Linked DNA regions of Homo sapiens. The protein of the gene in region 1 purifies or fractionates together with the protein of each later gene. This does not show direct contact. Each region holds a gene or a part of one and is shown in the gene's direction. Other genes may lie near its edges.

Region 1 (5,096 bases):
ACCTTGCTGAAAACAAATGTAAATTATATCATCCCAGTATCCCTTTGCTCATTAAGTGAAGAATGTGCATAATTCAAGCCTAAAATTTGTAATTAATGTGAAGTACCCAGATCCTGAAACATAAATGAGGACTTCTGGATCAACTTTTCCAGATCGTCAACATGGTCAAAAATGAGATAATCACTATGGTATTCAGGCATGAGCATTGTGTGGTAAACCCAAATCCAGTCTGACTTAATGGCTTTAGGCAAAGAAGTAAGTGCCAATTGTGTTGTATTTCCTAGAAGCTGTTTTTCATTTTATATGTAAGCTTCTCACTGCAAGATTTGGCAAATACAGTATTTGGGTAGGGGACAACATTTAAAAATTAAGAAAAACTGCAAGTTAAAAATACAAAGCCAAATGTGGTCCATGACTTAACACCTTGAATGTTGTTTATATTGTTTGAACAGAAAGCCAGGAATCTCAGGATGAATCAGTCTAGATCGAGATCAGATGGTGGCAGTGAAGAAACCTTACCTCAAGACCATAATCATCATGAAAATGAGAGAAGATGGCAGCAAGAGCGTCTCCACAGAGAAGAGGCCTATTATCAGTTTATTAATGAACTCAATGATGAAGATTATCGGCTTATGAGAGACCATAATCTTTTAGGCACCCCTGGTAAGAGATGGGTAAAAGAGGAAACACCCTTTTTTCATCATTTAGATGGAAGGATTTCAAGATAAGGAGAATTGGTATTCTTTTTCCTTGCTTCTCTTTATGAAAATATAGTATATTGTTTTTGTGAGTTTAAGAACTTTTTAGTATAATAAAGTAGAAAATCACTGGCTTCTGTATTTTATAAGGTGAAAATAGGGGACATGGAGCACTATTATACAAATGCCAAACTAAGAAACAGGTTAATGTACATAATGGTGTTAAGTATTTACATATATGGTCCTATTTGTAATTTTTATACAAATAAAATATGACTTAAAACCCAATTTGAACTCATTTGGGGTATTATAATTTATTTATTCAGCTGAATTAATAGCTCCCCCCAAAGCCCAATGTGTTCCATAAAGTTTTTACAAATGAACTAATGGAAATTTGTATGTTTATATATTGTGTGTTTGTATATTGATGACCCATATAATGAAGTATTTGGGATAAAATTCAAGTAAATATTTGAAGTTTTCTCTATAAATGCTCCCTTAATTTCTTTTTAACTGACAAAAATCCACAGTTATAGCTTATAGATTCCTAAGTGTATCAACTGGCAGCACTTTACCAACTATTCAAATTAAATCTTATTTTAATAATTTTTAATAAAAGATTAATAAATGAAGCACAACCGAATTGATGCACATTTGTACCAGTTGAATATTTTTAACTGTCTTCAATTTACAGAACATATGAAAGTAATAAGACATTTGTCTTCTATAGGTTACTAAAGATTAGTCTTACCCTTCATGAGGTCTCATAAAACTTAATTCAGAATTCTTAAATGAGCAGTTTTTCATTGTTTTAGGAGAAATAACATCAGAAGAACTGCAACAGCGGTTAGATGGCGTCAAGGAACAACTAGCATCTCAGCCTGACTTGAGAGATGGAACGAATTACAGAGGTACTATGGAGTCCTTTCCATAAGGAACAGGCTTGATTGGAGCACTTGCAGAAATGAAATTCTTAGACCTTGTATAGTATGTTTGTCTTCAATTTTTTCCAGTTTTAATGTGATACTCATTCAGATAATATATATATGAGTAGTAAAGCAGTATGGTTAAGCAGTATAGGACAGAGGAATGAATGCAAAGATGTCTTAAACACACAGATTGCCTTCAGAGAGCTTTATGTAATAATATACAATTAAGTTAATTCCCAGCATGCTTCTTTTTAATCTTGGAATGTACACATTACTTTTTCTAAAGTGATATTACTTAGCTTCTAAAAATTTATATACAGAACCGTGTAGAAAGACTGAGTTAGGAAACCTGTTTTTGTTTCTTTGTTCTGTTTGATGGTTTACATATAAAAAGTTCTTATAAGGAAAGTACTATAAAAGAACTTCAAACTAAATGAAGTATGTAGAGTTAAAAGGAAAAGCCACTTTTGTGTTCCTCTTAACCAGTTCTACTTCCCTCCTCAGAGGTATTTATTAGTAGTTTCACATATTATATCAAAATCATTGTATTAGTTACCATGAAGTCTATGTAAAAACCCCAAAATGCAATGGCTCAATAAGCTAGAAGTTTCTTACTTACGTTAACAGTCCAGGGAAGGAAATCCTCTTGGAACCCACTCAGCTAACAGAATGATTCTACAACTGTGCTGTTCAGTACAGTAGCTGCTAGCCACATGTGACTATTTAAATGGAAATTAATTAAAATCAAATTAAATTTAAAATTTAGCTCATTCATACTAGCCACATTCAGGTGCTTAATAGTCACATTTGGCTAGTGGCTTCTGTATTGGACAGCACAAATACAGAACATACTCATTACTTCAGAAAGATTTATGGGGCATCACTGCTCCAGGGTACCATTTGTATGATCAAGGTAAGTCGCAACCATATCTAGGTTCTAGCTGGTAGGAAGGAGGTCCACGCACTAGCGTGAGAGTAGGATGTATCGCTTACTCTCCCATTCCATTCATGAGAACTTAGTCTCATGGTCACACCTAACTGCCAGGCTGTCCACGAGCCAATTTCCGATGCTTTTACAATGGAAGAAGAGTAGGGTAGCTTTGAGTAGGTACTTGGCAAACTCTTTCACATGCACCATCATCACTACACTTAATCAAATGTTAATCAAAGAAGGAAGTAGCATTTAAAATAATTCATGTTCACCTGCCTTTTACTCATTCTTTTTCCAAACAAATGGGAAGTGGACATTAACACATTTTATTATTTGTGTTTAGATATGTAAGTTGTACTATATAGATGCAATAATTAATACTGATCTTTTGAATATGTTTCAGTGGAAAATGTACTCATCAAATATAAAATAGCTCATCATCTCTGGAATATGGCTCAGTTGCTGTTTATTTTATTGGCATCAACAGCTGATTAATAGCTTCAACTTCAGCATTTAAAAAAGTCTTACGAGAGAGATTGCAGGAATGAAATGAAATCAGAATGATGTCATATAATAGCTATTTTATTTATTTGTTTATTTATTTTTTGAGACAGAGTCCTGTTCTGTCACCCAGGCTGTAGTACAGTGGCACAATCTTGGCTCACTGCAACCTCTGCCTCCCGGGTTCAAGCAATTCTCCTGCCTCAGCCTCCTGAGTAGCTGGGATTACAGGCGCACGCCACCATGCCTGGCTAATTTCTTTGTATTTTTAGGAGAGACAGGTTTTTACCATGTCAGTCAGGCTGGTCTCGAACTCCTGACTTCATGATCTGCCTGCCTTGGCCTCCCAAAGTGCTGGGATTACAGGTGTGAGCCACCGCGCCCGGCCTATAATAGCTATTTTTGAGTAGAACAAACTTTAAAGTTGAAGTTTGTGTAGTTAATGTGTTGATGCTTTTTATTAAGTTTTGTACTTTATATAATATCTACTGGTTATAAATGGAAAATTTAAGCTTGGCACAGTGGCAGTATCTTAGTCAAAAAAGTTTATGGGTGACACATTTCTAAATTGATTAATTGAGCAATATTAATTGAAAGTCTGATTTATACTAGATACTGCTGTAGAGGCTGGAGATGTAACAGTGACTAAAACTACAAAAATCTTTGTTTTCCTGGAGCTTACGTTCTAAATGAATAGAAAATGTATTTTATTATGTATAACAGCTAACATTTATGGGGTGGCTTTTTATGTGCCAGATATTATGCTAATTATGTTATATATAGCGTCTTATTTTATCCTCAGGATAACCCTATGAGATTGATTCTATTATTAACTCCAGTTTATAGACAAGGATCAGCCATAGAGACCTTAAGTAACTTGCCTGGTTTCTCAGCTTCACACAAAGACAAATACAGTAATGTGGTTTTAATGTTATATTCAGAAACTCACATTTCTTGATGTGTACATTTTTGGCAGCACCTGAGAAATAGGAAAAATTTCTAAGATTACAGAAATACCTAGTTGCAAAAATGACTGAGTTGGCTTTTCCAGAAAGATTCCACAAATACAGGACAAATTTTACATAAAGTTTGTCTTTGTATTTTATTGATATTACTATATTGATAAAGCAATTTAAATGTAAACTTTTGGTAGTGGACATGTTTCTCATTTGCCTTAGTATTTTGCTAGTAATGGGCAGATAGAAAGTAAGAATGAGGATTTCTCCATAGCGTTGCATAAATAGTATTTAAAGCTTTGTAACTATGTAAATAGTAATTTAATTTTTATAATATGCTTATAGTAGATATACTTTTCTTTTAGAAAGTTGTCTTTTTGCCATCTTTCATTCATTAAAATCCACAGATGTTCTTTAATTTATTACAAACTTTGTTTTTCTTACAAGTTTTCAATAAAGCTGTAAGGTGTGTCTTAGGAATTGATCTTAAGTTGATTTGCTTTGCTTTCTAGACTCAGAAGTCCCTAGAGAAAGTTCACATGAAGATTCTCTTCTAGAATGGTTGAACACCTTTCGGCGCACAGGAAATGCAACTCGAAGTGGACAAAATGGGAACCAAACTTGGAGAGCTGTGAGTCGAACAAACCCGAACAATGGAGAGTTTCGGTTTAGTTTGGAAATCCACGTAAATCATGAAAATAGAGGATTTGAAATTCATGGAGAAGATTATACAGACATTCCACTTTCAGATAGTAACAGAGATCATACTGCAAATAGGCAACAAAGGTCAACTAGTCCTGTGGCTAGGCGAACAAGAAGCCAAACCTCAGTGAATTTCAATGGTAGTAGTTCCAACATTCCAAGGACTAGGCTTGCTTCAAGGGGGCAAAATCCAGCTGAAGGATCTTTCTCAACATTGGGAAGGTTAAGAAATGGAATTGGGGGAGCAGCTGGCATTCCTCGAGCTAACGCTTCACGCACTAATTTCAGTAGTCACACAAACCAATCAGGTGGTAGTGAACTCAGGCAAAGGGAGGGGCAACGGTTTGGAGCAGCACATGTTTGGGAAAATGGGGCTAGA
Region 2 (5,096 bases), on another chromosome or scaffold:
CTTCAAGTTTTCATTGTTGCAAACGTGTTCTTAAAAATAACGGCAGAGGTAGATGTTATGTGCATGGAATTTGTTTTGTTTTAACATCTCCATTTGGCAGAATAAAAATTTGGACCCTCCTGTGCCAAGGCCTCATTAATTTTTTTTTACTGGCCTGGAAAATCCTGGGATCCATGCACTGAAGGACCTTTAGAACCTTACAGAAGTTTAGTGACTTCATTCTCTGAGAAGAATAAGCAGTTTTTCAACTGGAGTCATTATATGATAAACTATAGCCTCATGGTAACAAAAGATATTTCAAAAGTACTTTCAATAAATATGAATAATGAGAAGCAGCTTTAAATTGGAAACAAGTCATTTGATTTAGAACATCTGTAAGGATTTTTTGTGTGTTTGTTTTTGAGGCTTTTCACAATATTCCTATGTGAAGGTCCTCCTGAGTTATTCTTCATTATTGAATTTTTTAGGAGTCTATTAAGAGATGATGGTGAAGACAGTGGCACAAGAAATGTCTGGAGAGATAGCGCCAGATGACATCATCCAGGGTTCTGTAGACTCTTATTAAGGATTCAGAAATTTATCCTAAAAAATGGGAGGATCTGGAACCAGCCAATGGGAGGCCATTAGATGGTTTTAGACAAGATAACATTTTCACTTTAAAAAGATGAGTCTGGATTGGAGGTCAGCAAGGGTAGATATGAGGAGACTAGTCCAGAAAAGAAAACAGGGTGCGTTGAAGGATGGTGGCGCCAGGGGTGAGGGAGAGAAGTAGATGTTCTAGAAAAAAATCAGGAGGGCGAATGAGCTGAAGGAATCGTTGGGTGAGGATGAGGGAGTGAGGTGTCAGCGTGACCTGCACATTGCTGAAGTGCTTCGCTGGGCGAATGGTGGCATCCGTTCCAGGAAACATGGGGAGGGGAAAGCTTGGGGGCTAAAGAATGAGGATCGTTTTCATTTGGGGTGTATGTTAAATTTCAGGTGGCAGAGAGGCATCCAGCAGGCCACTCGGACTGGCACTCAGAAGAGAGACACTGAGAGTCACTGGCATAATGATATTATATTTGAAGCCCTTGGAGCAGATGAACTTACCTAGAAATAGGATAGAGAAAGAGAAGAAAAGAGAACTAGGCAAAGGCTAAGTAACTTGCACATGTATGTGTCAAGAAGAGGAGAAATTGCCAAAGTTAAAACAGGACAGGCCGGGCGCGGTGGCTCATGCCTGTAATCCCAGCACTTTGGGAGGCCAAGGTGGGCAGATCACGTGAGGTCAGGAGTTTGAGACTAGCCTGGCCAACATGGAGAAACCCTGTCTCTACTAAAAATACAAAAATTAGCTGGGCATAGTGGCTCACGCCTGTAGTCCCAGCTACTCAGGAGGCTGAGGCGGGAGAATTGCTTGAACCTGGGAGGGAGAGGTTGCAGTGAGCCAAGATCCTGCCATTGCACTCCAGCCTGGACAATGAGCGAAACTTCGTCACAGAAAACAAAAACAAAAAAATAGGAGAGTAAGTGGAACAGGAAGCTCAGGGAAGAGACTGGGACAGGTTAACTATGTTGAATATTATTGAGATGTCAGTGGTATTATGATGTTGGGCAACTGGAGGTCATTGGTCACCTCGACTGGAGCAGTGTTGGGGGCAGAAAACAGCTTGCGGTAGGCTAAGTGTGATTGGCAGGAAAGGAACTAGAGGGGAGAGATGGCTGCTCTGCGTAATAAATCTGACCCACTTCATAAGATGTGCGAAGATGAAACGTAATGGCTTAGTAATTAATTGCCAAAGTAAACTTGTAAACTCATTTTTATGCATCAGCTTCTCATACTAGTTAACAGCGTATGTCAACATTGTTGACATTAGCTATTGAATCAGCTTTAGCAATGATTTTCACGCAGTTGCCAGAAATCTCATAGACCCCATCTGGCCTAGGAATTTATTGCACTTCATCTGCTTTTCCCTACTTCTCCCAAAGAGGGAACACACAGGTGTAATCCATTCACTTATTCAACAAATACTGCTTGCCTACTATGTGCCAGACTCCTAAACGCTGGGAATGCGTCAGCCAATGAGATAGATGAGGTCCTTCCTCTCATGGAGGGTTTATTCACATTCCTTTGACCTAAATATCAGTAGCTTAATAGGATGCCATCCCATCAAAGCCCAGAAGACAAGTGAAAACATTTTCAAGCTCATGTGAATTCTTGTACACGTAGGAAACATGCCTCTTTGTATTCAGTGTTTCTGCTGAGTTGTACATAAGAGGACATTATAGGAAAAACTTGTCTGCAAAATAGTTGTTGATGAATTCAAGAATTGAATGAATGAAAAATTGTCTGGCTAGAGTTGTTTGGCTTCTGGTGGGTATGAAAACTGACATGAGGTATGTAATTTTAGATTATCCTTCATTGTCTCTTTCTGAGTATTTCAATAAGACAAGCACACAAGGGCTTTCTGGACTTTTAAAATTCACTATTAGAAGCATACATTATTTCATTGAGGGTCTCCTAATTCTTTCGGGCTCAAATATTTTAAGGAGCTGTACAAGTTATGCCATTTTTTAAGGGTATGGCGCTTTCATTGAGACCTTAATGTTCTCTTTATATTTTTGTGTTTTTTTTAGAATGTTGTGTTCAGTAGCTCTGTAATTAATTTCTCTTAATGAATGGGGAGGACATTCAAAGAGGCTTAAGTTTCTATCAAATAACCAGAAAAATTAGAGAATTTTCTGACCCAAACAGTCTTTTAAAAGCACTTTCCAGAGAGTTTTTTGTTTTTTTTTTTTTTCTGAGATGGAGTCTTGCTCTGTCTCCCAGGCTGGAGTGCAGTCACACTATCTCGTCTCACTGCAACTTCCACCTCCCGGCTTCAGGCAATTCTCCTACCTCAGCCTTCCGAGTACCTAGGATTACAGGCACATGCCACCCAGCTAATTTTTGCATTGTTAGTAGTAACGGGGATTTCGCCATGTTGGCCAGGCTGGTCTTGAAGTCCTGACCTCAGGTGATCCACCCACCTCAGCCTCCCAAGGTGCTGGAATTACAGGCATGAGCCACCATGCCTGGCCCAGAGAGTTTCAAATGCATTGAAATATCAGATTTTTACCACTTATCTTCACTCTTAGGAGACCACTGAGGGGCAGGGAGAAAGGTAGGGAAGGGCAGGGAGAGAGAGAGAAAGAGAGGTACTGTGGGGAGAGGGTTAGAGAGAATTGATTCTAAGTTGGATTTTGTTTCCTGTGATAGGGTGTACATAGTATACCATCCAGACCACATAATCTCTCTTCTTATCATCTGTTTCTAATCTTTACCTATCATCTATTTAAGTTTTTACCTGCCTTAATAGAGTTGTCTGTTATTAAACTGTTTATAAACTTGGGGATAGTAAGGAACTTTAAATAACATTAAGTAAGTTCATTATAATTCTGTTTTAGGGCTACTCGTGGGTTTTGAAGCTGTGTCTCCCTGTAGAATTCTTTTTTGAGGGGGAGGAAGTAGCTCTTTTTTCCACCCTACCCCTAAAACTAACCTTTTTGCATAAACGACTTAGGCGTTCATGCCATGTGAGCCCCTGAAATACTGTAGTCTCATAGCTGCCAACTTTCTTATTTTCTGTCACACTTATCCTATTTCCTTGCAGCCAGGTTCTATGCCAATTTCACGTTTGTTTATTGCTACCAAGAGTCGTTATCAACCTCAGACTCACTCCACATGTATTGTTGCTAGCTTGCTCTTTAGTTCTTACCTCTGGGGCAGGTCACATTCTCTCCTAATACTAGACAGAGCATTTTCAACTTTGCTCACAGTTGTCTAGTAAGAAATGTGCCTGTAATTTGATGTTTATTTTGGCTTTGGAACCCAGGGCGTGCAAATGTCATTATTAGGAAGGGATAGGAGTCATTACGTTTCACTTAATTTGCCGAGTTGATTCTAGTGATCACCAGAAGCCCTGAACTACGCGCAGATTATTCTGTTAGGAATTAAATTGAGGCATTGGTTTTATTATCTCTGTGGGAAGCTGTTTGATAGAACAGGGAAAGCCATTGACTCTGATTCTGTCACCAGCTGTGTAACTTTCTACAAGTCACTAATGGAGCAGGGTCTTAAGTCCACAACATGATCATAAAATTAAGCACTTGGGTTAAGTACCCATCACAGTATTCCCAACTCATAGGAAAACAATGGTCAGATAAACAAGAAAATGTAAAGCGGAGTATCTCCTCACAGCAGAACTTATTTACAAATTTTACAAAGTAAAATTAAGTTGCAACCCCTATAAGTCTCTAAGTAGCTCATTTATTAGCAAAATAAGGAAAGCCATTTACCAATGGTGGATTACCTAAATTGTATTCGATTGTAGTAGCAGAAGTATTGTGTCCAGGGAAAATGAAATTATTTTACATGTCATTGAGAACCCTTGTCCTGGACTTTGGGAAGAACATCAATATCAATTAAAGAACAAAGCATGTGATTTTTGAGTGATTTTTCTTGACTGTCAACATACCGATAACTGATCAGTTGTTGATATTTATTAGATGATCATTGCCAAGTTTGAAGTGACTGAAGAGTTAGCCTCTGAATCATCTGTATAAAACAACTACAGGCGAGGATGTTTTCGAAGAAGCTGAGAAAATAATGATTGAGTATAACCTGGAATGGAATCTGCTAAGATCTATAAAAATTGACAGTAGTAAAAATATTTGTGAGTAGAAAAAGGCGGAGTTGAGCAAATTCACAAAACTTGTGAACATGCGAGGTGTTTAAAGCTCATGGTTATTTATTATAGTATTCCTTTTCAGATATTTTGTGGAAAATATTGGAATCTCACATGTGTTATTGAACCGGCAATATAAACCATGAGCTTCATTTGCTCTTGTGGATATAACCGTCATCATTTCTGTGAATTATCAGAAATAGAGGCCGGATATCCTGATGTCTCTTGTGACAGAGCCATTAGATAGCTTGCTAGCTGTAAAGTTTTGCAGTCTTTGAGTTCACAGTTGAGACTGAAGTTTTTCTAAACGAGCTGCCCCCAGCCACTATTACTGAACACGAATGGCTTTGGAAATTAGCTTTTGCTACAGACTTGATATTGTTTCTTAAT
Region 3 (5,096 bases), on another chromosome or scaffold:
CTGGGCTTCTTGGGGCAACCAACAGGAAGCAGATTGTCCTTGATGTTCTCATAATAGACAACAGTGGCAAAACTACAACTCTTGATTTTTCAACATTGCCTATGAGTTACAGACAGCCTTGCCTGTCCAACACATCTGTGAGCTGCTAATTATTAGGTTGTCATTCTGGGGCCTCCCTGGCTATGATGTCAGCCATGAATTATCTTCCATGGTAATTTGCACTTGTGGAGTTGGCTAATGTTAAGGATTCAGGAGTTCCCCTGCTGAAGCACACAGACATTCCTAAACCTCACAGTGGAACAAGGGATGCATTTCTAATAATCTTGTTACTCTTTGGATTAGTACTTTTCAAACTGGAGTTTGCAGACTCCTGCATTTTGAAAGCTTTTAATGAAATGTCATTCTCCCACCCTCCTTCCCTTGTTTAGTGTTAGTTCTTAGAAATCAGTGTAAGAACGTCTGGATCTACTGGAGGACTCCCTAGTCACAGAGTACCAGACATGACTTCAGGGCAGCATGTCTGTATTTGCAGTCATCTTCATGCCAGTGATAGCCATAAAACCTCAAAGCTTCCTCAAATGTGGCTAACAGAGCCAGTTGGAGGAACCAGTTGCCTTGCTGCACACAGAGAACCTGGGTTGCACAGTGAGAGCCATGCTTGACTACTGATAACAAAAGGCTATCGTTTGTTACCACTATGTGCAGTAATAAGCACCCAGGGAAGAATGTACACAATCCCAGTGCCAGCAACATTTAGATGAGGCCCTCATGATTAACACAGAGCTCAATAATGCTCTAATGCTGGCATTATTTATATATTTATATATTTTTTGAGGCAGAGTCTTGCTCTTGTTGCCCAGGCTGGAGTGCAGTGGTATGGTCTCGGCTCATTGCAGCCTCCGCCTGGCAGGTTCAAGACATTCTCCTGCCTCAGCCTTCCAAGTACCTGGCATGTGCCTCCACGCCTGAATAATTTTTGTATTTTTAGTAGAGACAGGGTTTCGCCATTTTGCCTGGGCTGGTCTCAAACTCCTGGCATCAAGTGATCTGCCTGCTGCAGCCTCCCAAAGTACTGAGATTACAAGCGTGAGCCACTGTGCCTGGCCTGCTGGCATTAAAGAGAACATGACAAAGTTATCAACTGCCATATTAAAATAGGCATTCAAGGACTACTTGCTGACAGTTTTAAGTTTGAACACTGATTATCCCAAGTTTCCAACGAACGTCTTGGAGTTGCTAATACTCTTTTGTGTATCATGCTTACGTGCTTAGGCATTTTCTGCATTGGTATTGTGGAAGTTGAGATGTACAAATATATAAAACAATATCTGAAGCCTCCTCACAGTTTGCAACCAAGTTCAAGCAAAACAATATCCACAACCTTAAACTAATACAACATAAAGTGAATGTAATGAGGATATTGATTTGAATTTTTATTTACTTCTTAGGGGTTTTGTATTTAATGAATAAATATGTTTTGGTTTTACTGACTCTTGAGCTTTAGTAAATTAAGGTGTTTAACCTTTGCATGTTAATATGTATATTAAGTAATATAATAAAAATTGTTAATAAATATCCATTTTATTTATTTTGTTCCTTAGGGACAAATTTAGTGTTTGAAGATGAAATCACTGCATTACAACCTGAAGTAGATAAGTTAAAAACTCTAAATGTGAACAAAATTATTGCACTGGGACATTCGGGTTTTGAAATGGATAAACTCATCGCTCAGAAAGTGAGGGGTGTGGACGTCGTGGTGGGAGGACACTCCAACACATTTCTTTACACAGGTAATTGTTTCAAAAGGATTGCATGGGCCAGGATGTCCAGATAAGCACTGTGTCTCTTTTGCCTTTGTAACTGTTATTACTCTTTTTACTGCTATTTAATATGTAATGTATATTATATGATCTATAATATATATGTAATATACATTAAATGGGAACATGTGCAAATCTTACAAACATTACTAAGAATTTATTGATTTCATGATTATAAGTCAATTCCATATATTTATGTATATAATAAATATATAAGACATAAAATATGTATAAAACATATATATACCATACATATGAAAAACAAAAAGACTATTGAGCCCCAACCAAGTCATTTATGATAGATTCTTATCAAAAAGCAACATGTCATATAAAAACTTTAAGCATAAACAAAATAATGTAAATAAGGACCTTTATAACTCAAGGTGGATTTGATTTGTAGGTTGCACAGGTAGCAGAGGCTGGACCTCGAGTGTGAGTCCTAACTCTGCTGCAGACTAGGAATATAAGTATCCTGGAAGCCACATGACCCTGGGTCCTCAGGAGAGCATGCACTCTTCCTACCCACTACCTGACTACCCCCACCACTCTCTTTTTTTCTCTCTCAAATTGGTGTTAAGTAGTTTTCATCAGAATAACTCTTTTATGATTTTTCCACTTTAAACCTATAATGTCCCAAAACTTTTGAATCTGGTTCCACCTTTCCCACTTCCCCCACCTTGCACTGCATAGATCTTTGAAGTATTCCCAAGGAAAGGAAGAAGAGGCTGGTAAACAGTTCTTCTATCAGCATTCGCAAAGAAGGCTTTGGCGTGGGAACAGCCCTCCCCTTGAAGAGGCTCCTGCTTCTACCATCCTTATGTGGGCTGTCAAAGACCATGCTATTTTGATAAAAGCGAAACTCAAAATACCCCAAACAATAAGTAGGAAATACCCAAAAACATTAAAAGGGATTATCACTAAGAAAGTAATTTTTATTTTCTTTCTAGTACTTTGGAGTATTTTCAAATAATGAATGCATGTTACTTTTGCAATCGGAAAGCAAAATATAAATTATAAAAAGGAAAGAAACACAATATTGGGTCAAAAGTCCCCATTCCTAATTCACTTGAATGACTTTGAGCAGGTCACTTAGCACCTCTGAATCTGCTAGCTTAGCTTCAAAATAGGGGATGATCATGCTCAAAGTTCCACGTTACTGTGAAAATTATATGAGATGTAAAAATATGTGAAAGCAGTTTATAAACTATAAATAGCTATATTCTGGTATGCAGCGTCATGGAGGTTGCCTGCTTATAAAAATATGTCAGTCAAAATCATAACTCACAAACTAAAGTTGGCCTTCACTTAAGAAAATACCAGTATGAATGTGTGCTAATTAAATTCCTTCACAGATATTTTACTTCTTGGTAAACACAGGCTAAGGAATAATTTCAAACTGAGTTAAACTGACAGGTTGTGAAATCAATTTATGGGTTATGACCAGTAGTAGGGCTTTTTTTTTTGACAGATAAGACTAAAATAGATTAGGCACTTACATTACTCATAAGAATGATAAATATTGTTCCATGGGAAAAGATGTATATAAGATGTCAAGAACAGCCCCAGGCACATAGCAGACAATCCATAAATGTGATGAGGATGACGACTAGCACTGGACATTGTTAGCATGGATAACATTGCAATCAAAGAGTTTCAACAACTCCATGAGGGTTAAATGAACTAAGAGAGCCAAGACGAGGAAATAATTGGAGCAGGTCACTGGGAAGCACTGGGTAGGGGTGAAGACTCAACAAAGTCCTTCTGACTCTACCACTAATGGTGGGGTCCTTTCAATGCCTGATTACCCTCATCTGTGGAATGAAGGTGATAACAACAGTACCTATTATAAGGGGTCACTGTGATTTAATATGTGTAATGAATGTATAGGTAAATGGCCTTAGCACAGGGCCTAGTATGTTAGCTGTTCTTATTTTAGTTATGTGCTGGCTCACTGGATAAGACCTGTGAAAACCCAAACCTTAGCTTTTCACTGAGGCAGTGTCAGCACCCTTGGACACACAGTGGGAGCTAGATATGTCTCCTCCCCCTTCTTCCTTTAGAATAATGGTTTCAAAAAGTTTAAACTATGACCCGTAGTAAGAAGAACATTTTAGACAGGGAGCCAAAACACACAAACATATATGTGTGTGTGCGTTCACATACGAACATGCAAAAGCACTTGTATGTGCAAACACATACAAGTGAAAGAAAACTTTCACAAAGCACATGGAATGCACCCCAACTTTTCTGTTTTACTGTTTTATTCACTTAATGCCAGCTACCACTCATTGAATTGATTTTCTTGTACTGTAGTTAATCCATGTTTCTAAAAACTCAGCTTTAAATGGGACGTGACCAAAATAATGCATGAACACTCAAAGGAGTTTCATCCCTTCATTCAGATGTGAACATTCCTGTGTTCCCCTTGACTTGTCTTTACACCATCTTAATCAATGCTGTCTTACAGCAACAATTAGTCATTCATAGCCTGTGGTTTGTGTCCATCAGTGAGTGTGCCCTGATAGACCTGAAAAGATTGGGAGACCATGCCCAGCTTCCCATTATTTCTGTAGCCTGTCCTTTGTTCCCATAACAGTACAGTCATGCCTTAGTATCTGTGGGGGATTGGTTCTAGAACTCCCTGTGGATACCAAAATCCATGGATGCTCAAGTCCCTTATATAAATGGTGTAGCATTTGCATATGACCTGTGCACATCCTCGCATATATTTTAAGTCATCTCTAGATTACTTATAATACTTGATACAATGTAAATGATATGTAAATAGTTGTTATACTGTATTGTTTAGGGAGCAAAGACAAGAAAAAATATATGTTCAGTACAGATAAAACCATCCTTTTTTAGAAAATAACTTTTTGTTCATGGCTGGCTGAATCCAACAATGCAAAACCCACAGTTAGAGACAGCCAACTGTATGTGCCTTTGCTAAGTAGATAAATTTAGTTAATGATGAAGGACTGGATGAAAGAAAGATTTGAGGATAAAAATTAGAGTTTGCTTATCTGTAAATCCTGAAGTAAATAATTACAGTCTCTGAGAAAACTGAGATAACTAATACTTAGTCATTTACTTCACATTTCATGATTGCTTACCAAGATTAAACTTGTTCTGATGAAAATCTTCACTTTTCATACTCATCGTTTTGATGAGTGAACTTAACAATTAAAGGTGGCTGGGCACAGCAGCTCATGCCTATAATCCCAGAATTTTGGGAGGCTGAGGCAGAAGAATTGCTTGAGCCCAGGAGTTCGAGAC
Region 4 (5,096 bases), on another chromosome or scaffold:
CTAGGACAGTGATTCTCAACCTCAGTGACACATGTAAACAGCTTGGGAACTTTAAAAATTCTGATGCCCAGGCCATACCCCTATGAAATCAAATTAGAATTTCTCAGAGGGGGCACAAGCATCATGTTTTTTTTTTTGTTTTGTTTTGTTTTTTTTTTGAATAAACCCAGATGATTCCCTTGCACAGCTAAGGCTGAGAGCCACTGCCCTAGGATATTTGTTGGAAGTGTTGTCATTAGGGTTTTAACCAAATCACTGAAAAGTTTTTTAATCAAGTCCTTCAGAAGAGTTGCGGGATAGGTCCATGCTCCTCAAACCTGAATGTGTAAACCCATACCTGGAGGTTGCGTTGTGGTTTCATATTCACTGGGGCTGTGGTAGGGCCTGAGATTCTGCTTTTCTAGCAAGCTCCAAGTGATGCACATGGTGCTTCTGCTGCATCCACCGACTTTAGGTAGAAGGGGATTAGGTAACCTTACTAAAGTGCTCTGAGCAAGTTGGAAGAAACACTGCTTTTGTCATTATTGTTTACCTTGGGAGAATGGATTCCAGGATCTGATGTTTTAAAGAGACTGTAAGTATGTTTTTAGCCAAGCCTGTAAATATTGACCTTCTAAGGTATCTTTAATTATGACCGACTCTTGGTTTGTCCTTGCAGGGCTCAGAAGCAGCTAGTAAAGGAGACTTTCTCTTCAGCAGTGATCACCTGATTGAAATGGCCACCAAGCTCTATCGCACAACTCTCAGCCAAACCAAACAGAAGCTCAATATTGAGATTTCCGATGAGTACGTTCATGTATTGTTTGAAAACCCTTTTTCTCTTTCAGCTTTTTTGTTTTAGTTCAGCTCTCGATCTCATTCATTAATACAACTACTTATTAAGTACCAGGTATGTGTCTAGTAGTTGTTCCACATGATAAATGGGCAGTGAATGACACTGACCAAGTCTCCAACCTCATGTACCTGACATCCTAGTGGAAGAGACCAGTATGTACAAATAAAATGATGAAATAGTTGATAAGATTTTGGCTAACAAGTGTTTATGGAGGAAAAAAAGGGTTAAGAGTCAGAGAGTAGGCCAGGCGCAGTGGCTCACGCCTGTAATCCCAGCACTTTGGGAGGCCGAGGCAGGCGAATCACGAGGTCAGGAGTTCGAGACCAGCCTGGCCAACATGGTGAAACCGTCTCTACTTAAAATACAAAAAAAATTAGCTGGGCGTGGTGGCGGGCGCATGTAATCCCAGCTACTCAAGAGGCTGAGGCAGGAGAATCTCTTGAACCCGGGAGGCGGAGATTGCAATGAGCCGAGATCGTGCCACCGCAATCCAGCCTGGGTGACAGTGTGAGACTCCGTCTCAGAAAAAAAAAAAGAGTCAGGGAGGCCTCTTTGATGTGGTGACATCTGAGACTGGTATAAATTTGAAATTTGCTTCTTCAATTTCTCATTAGGGTTCTGAATATAGAAGTTAGTTATTTGCATACAGGTTGGGGCATCCCCAGATTTATTGTATCTATCTATGTAAGTGTTTTGGAGAAATCTGAGTTACTGTGTTGATTATACTTAATTGGTTACCTTTCAATAGATTGTTTACCTGCTTATATACTTCTTTGCATGTCTAGATTGCTCAGGAAATTATATTCTTTTCTAATTAAGAATTTTCTAGTCTATTCTGTTTCAACTCTTCCTAAAAGTCTTTCTAAAATAAATTTACACCCATTTCTGCCCCTTTGTAAGTCAGACTCTCTTTGATATGTTAGGATTTTGCAGTGCTGTGGGCTTTTCTTAAGTTCTCATTGAAGTGTTTAGATTTGGGTGGGAGGTTGGGCTTCATGTATACTCTATATTGGAAATTGCTGTTCGGACTAAATAACTTTTCTTGTTAATGAGATCTTTCTCATAAAGAAATTAGGAAAAAAATAATGGTTGGTGTGTTTCAGTTAAGGATTTAACACGTTAGGGCCTATTAGAGCTTTAAAATCCCTTTATAATAGTTGAAGTTTTTCATAATCTGGGAGAATGGGCTTTGGTGGGGCTGCTAATTCTCACTCACCATGGGAAGATCGTATGTATCCCAGACAGCAGAAGCTCCTCAGTGTACAGACGAAGCAGTCTCATAGTTGTCCCACTATGTGAATAAACTCATCTTTACACAGAAAGGAAATCACACCAACATCCAGACCACAAAGTACTGCTATTTTTAAGCATTTCCCAAACCGGGATTCTAGGAACATTGCTTGTACAGGATGCTAATAACGATGTACTGTGAAAAAATTGTTCTCTGATGGAAATTTAAAATCTTTCTTCACTACATTACATCTCAGAGTCCCTGAAATCTTGTTGTGATTCTCCTGAGGAGCTTTGCGGGGATAGCGTGTGGCGTGAATCCTAAACATAGTCAACCACAGAGCTCCTTCAGCAGCTCTCACAGCTTGTGTTCGAAGGTGTGCCATCTGGGAAAGGGGGACAGTTCGCTTCTGGGCAGCAAGGGCCCTGCCCTGTCACAGAGGGCGTGTGATGTTCTGGATGCCATAAGCTTTCAGTAAACAGTTGTCTGAGCGAAGATTTATAATGTGGCCACATGAAGAAAACAAACATTGGGTAGCATTATAATGCCTTTCATTCTCCAGTGCCTAATTATTGATTGGTCTCATAAAAATAAAACAGTTCATAGGACTCTACATAGCACCCGTGGGTCCCTTCCCCAGGTGGCACAGGAAGCCTGCAGAGGAAGTTTGTAGGTAAGGATCGTAAATCTCCTTAGGGAGCATTTTGAATTTAAACGAAAATGTCCAAAGTCATAGGCAGGGGCGCCTGTTCCTTTATGTGTCAGCCCTAAGTGGCTTCGCTAGCTCTATAGAACCAGTGTTGAAAACCACATGCAGTTTAGTGACTAAGCCCTTCCTTGCTTTTTCCTTCCCAGAAGTAGAAGTAGTTACTCTAACAAACCTAGATTCTGTAATCATTATGGATAAGTGGATGTCAGTTTATGGAAAGAGAGTCAAAGTCCTGTTTACTCTTTAGTGGATTTTTTTTTTTTTTTTTTTTTTTTGAGGCAGAGTTTCGCTCTTGTTGCCAAGGCTGGAGTGCAGTGGCACGATCTTGGCTCACCGCAACCTCCGCCTCCCGGGTTCAAGGGATTATTCTGCCTCAGCCTCTTGAGTAGCTGGGATTACAGGCATGCACCACCACGCCTGGCTAATTTTGTATTTTTAGTAGAGATGGGGTTTCTCCATGTTGGTCAGGCTGGTCTCGAACTCCTGACCTCAGGTGATCCGCCCCCCTGGGCCTCTGAAAGTGCTGGGATTACAGGCGTGAGCCACCGCGCCCAGCCTGTTCAGTGGAATTTAAACTTGTACATATAGAAGTGAGAATTGAATTCATTCAGAGATTCAGCTGCCTTATAGTTTCTAGTCCTTAAACTTCTAAGCTGTTCAATGTGTAACTAGATTGCATTTTAAGGATAACCTGCAAGATGTGTAATGCAGTTATGCACCACATAATGACATTTTGGTCAGCAATGGATTGCACAGATGACGGTGGTCCCCTAAGATTGTAATGGAGCTGAAAAATTCTTCTGTCTATTGATGTCACAGGTGTTGTAATGTTATAGTGCAAGGCACTACTCACATGTTTGTGCTGCTGCTGGTGTAAACAAACCTACTTCACTGCCAGTTGTCTACAAGTAAAAGCACATACAATTATGTACAATATGTAACTCTTGATAATAAATGATGTTGTTACTGGTTTATGTATTTATTATACTATACTTTTTTTTTTTTGAGACTCAGTCTTGCACTGTTGCCCAGGCTGGAGTGCAGTGGCGTGATCTCGGCTCACTGCAAGCTCCGCCTCCTGGGTTCATGCCATTCTCCTGCCTCAGCCTCCCGAGTAGCTGGGACTACAGCTGCCCGCCACCACGCCCGGCTAATTTTTTGTACTTTTAGTAGAGGTGGGGTTTCATCGTGTTAGCCAGGATGGTCTCGATCTCCTGACCTTGTGATCTGCCCGCCTCAGCCTCCCAAAGTGCTGGGATTATAGGCGTGAGCCACCACGCCCGGCCTATACTGTACTTTTTATCTTTATTTTAGCGTGTATGCCTACATGTTAAAAAAGTTAATAGTAAAACAGCCTCGGGCAGGTCCTTAAGGGGGTATTTCAGAAGGCATTGTTATCTTAGGAGAAGACAGCCCCATGTGTATTATTACCCCTGAAGACTTTCCAGTGGGACAAGACATGGAGATAGAAGACAGTGAAATTGATGCTCCTGACCCTGTGTAGGCCTAGGCTAATATGTTTGTATCTTAGTTTTTAACAAAAAGTTTAAAAAGTAAAAATAAAAAAAATTAAAATTTTAAAAATAGAGAAAAGCTTATAGAATAAGGTTATAAAGAAAATATTTTTGTACAGCTATACAAAGTATTGTGTTTTAAGCTAAGTGTTATTACAAAAGAGCCAAAAAACAGCCGGGCCCAGTGGCTCACGCCTGTAATCTTGGCACTTTGGGAGGCCAAGGCTGGTGGATTGCTTGAGCTTAGGAGTTCAATACCAGCCTGGGCGACATGACGAAACCCCTTCTCAACAAAAAAATTAAAAAATTAGCCAGCCATGGTGACACACACCTGTAGTCCCAGCTTCTCAGGAGGCTGAGGTGGGAGAATCATCTGAGCCCGGGAAGGTCAAGGCTGCCCTGAGCCATGATTGCTCCAGTGAACTCCAGCCTGGGAGACAGACCAAGACCCTGCCTCAAAAACAAAACAAAAGTGTCAAAAATGTTTTTAAAATTGTAAAGTTTATAAAGCAAAAAGTTACAGTAAGCAAAGGTTAATTTATTATTGAAGAAAGAAAAAATTACCTATAAAGTATACCGTAATGTAATGTCCTAGGCCTTCACATTCACTAACAACTCACTCACTGACTCACCCAGAGCTACTTCCAGGCCTGCAAGCCCCATTCATGGTAAGGGCGCTAGACAAGTACACTATTTTTTATCTTTTATGCTATTCTTACTGTACCTTTTCTATTCTTACTAAGTTTACACATACAAATACCATTGTGTTACAGTTACCTACAGTACAATAACACGCTGTAGCATCTA

What was found. Proteins that work in one complex are often made in the same cells at the same time.
Region 2: the proteins of RNF6 (region 1) and ASAH1 purify together in Homo sapiens (affinity purification with mass spectrometry; one large-scale study listed by BioGRID and IntAct). This does not show direct contact.
Region 3: the proteins of RNF6 (region 1) and NT5E purify together in Homo sapiens (affinity purification with mass spectrometry, with the first as the bait; 2 studies listed by BioGRID). This does not show direct contact.
Region 4: the proteins of RNF6 (region 1) and MYO1B purify together in Homo sapiens (affinity purification with mass spectrometry, with the first as the bait; one large-scale study listed by BioGRID). This does not show direct contact.

The regions. Positions count from the first base shown.
Region 1 is NC_000013.11:26,215,024-26,220,119, reverse strand, and holds part of RNF6 (E3 ubiquitin-protein ligase RNF6), read left to right. Parts: intron 1-452; 5' UTR 453-470; coding exon 471-663; intron 664-1,513; coding exon 1,514-1,609; intron 1,610-4,527; coding exon 4,528-5,096. UniProt on the Homo sapiens protein: E3 ubiquitin-protein ligase mediating 'Lys-48'-linked polyubiquitination of LIMK1 and its subsequent targeting to the proteasome for degradation. Negatively regulates axonal outgrowth through regulation of the LIMK1 turnover.
Region 2 is NC_000008.11:18,076,959-18,082,054, reverse strand, and holds part of ASAH1 (acid ceramidase isoform a preproprotein), read left to right. Parts: intron 1-5,096. UniProt on the Homo sapiens protein: Lysosomal ceramidase that hydrolyzes sphingolipid ceramides into sphingosine and free fatty acids at acidic pH.
Region 3 is NC_000006.12:85,469,636-85,474,731, forward strand, and holds part of NT5E (5'-nucleotidase isoform 1 preproprotein), read left to right. Parts: intron 1-1,601; coding exon 1,602-1,790; intron 1,791-5,096. UniProt on the Homo sapiens protein: Catalyzes the hydrolysis of nucleotide monophosphates, releasing inorganic phosphate and the corresponding nucleoside, with AMP being the preferred substrate. Shows a preference for ribonucleotide monophosphates over their equivalent deoxyribose forms.
Region 4 is NC_000002.12:191,415,457-191,420,552, forward strand, and holds part of MYO1B (unconventional myosin-Ib), read left to right. Parts: intron 1-658; coding exon 659-786; intron 787-5,096. UniProt on the Homo sapiens protein: Motor protein that may participate in process critical to neuronal development and function such as cell migration, neurite outgrowth and vesicular transport.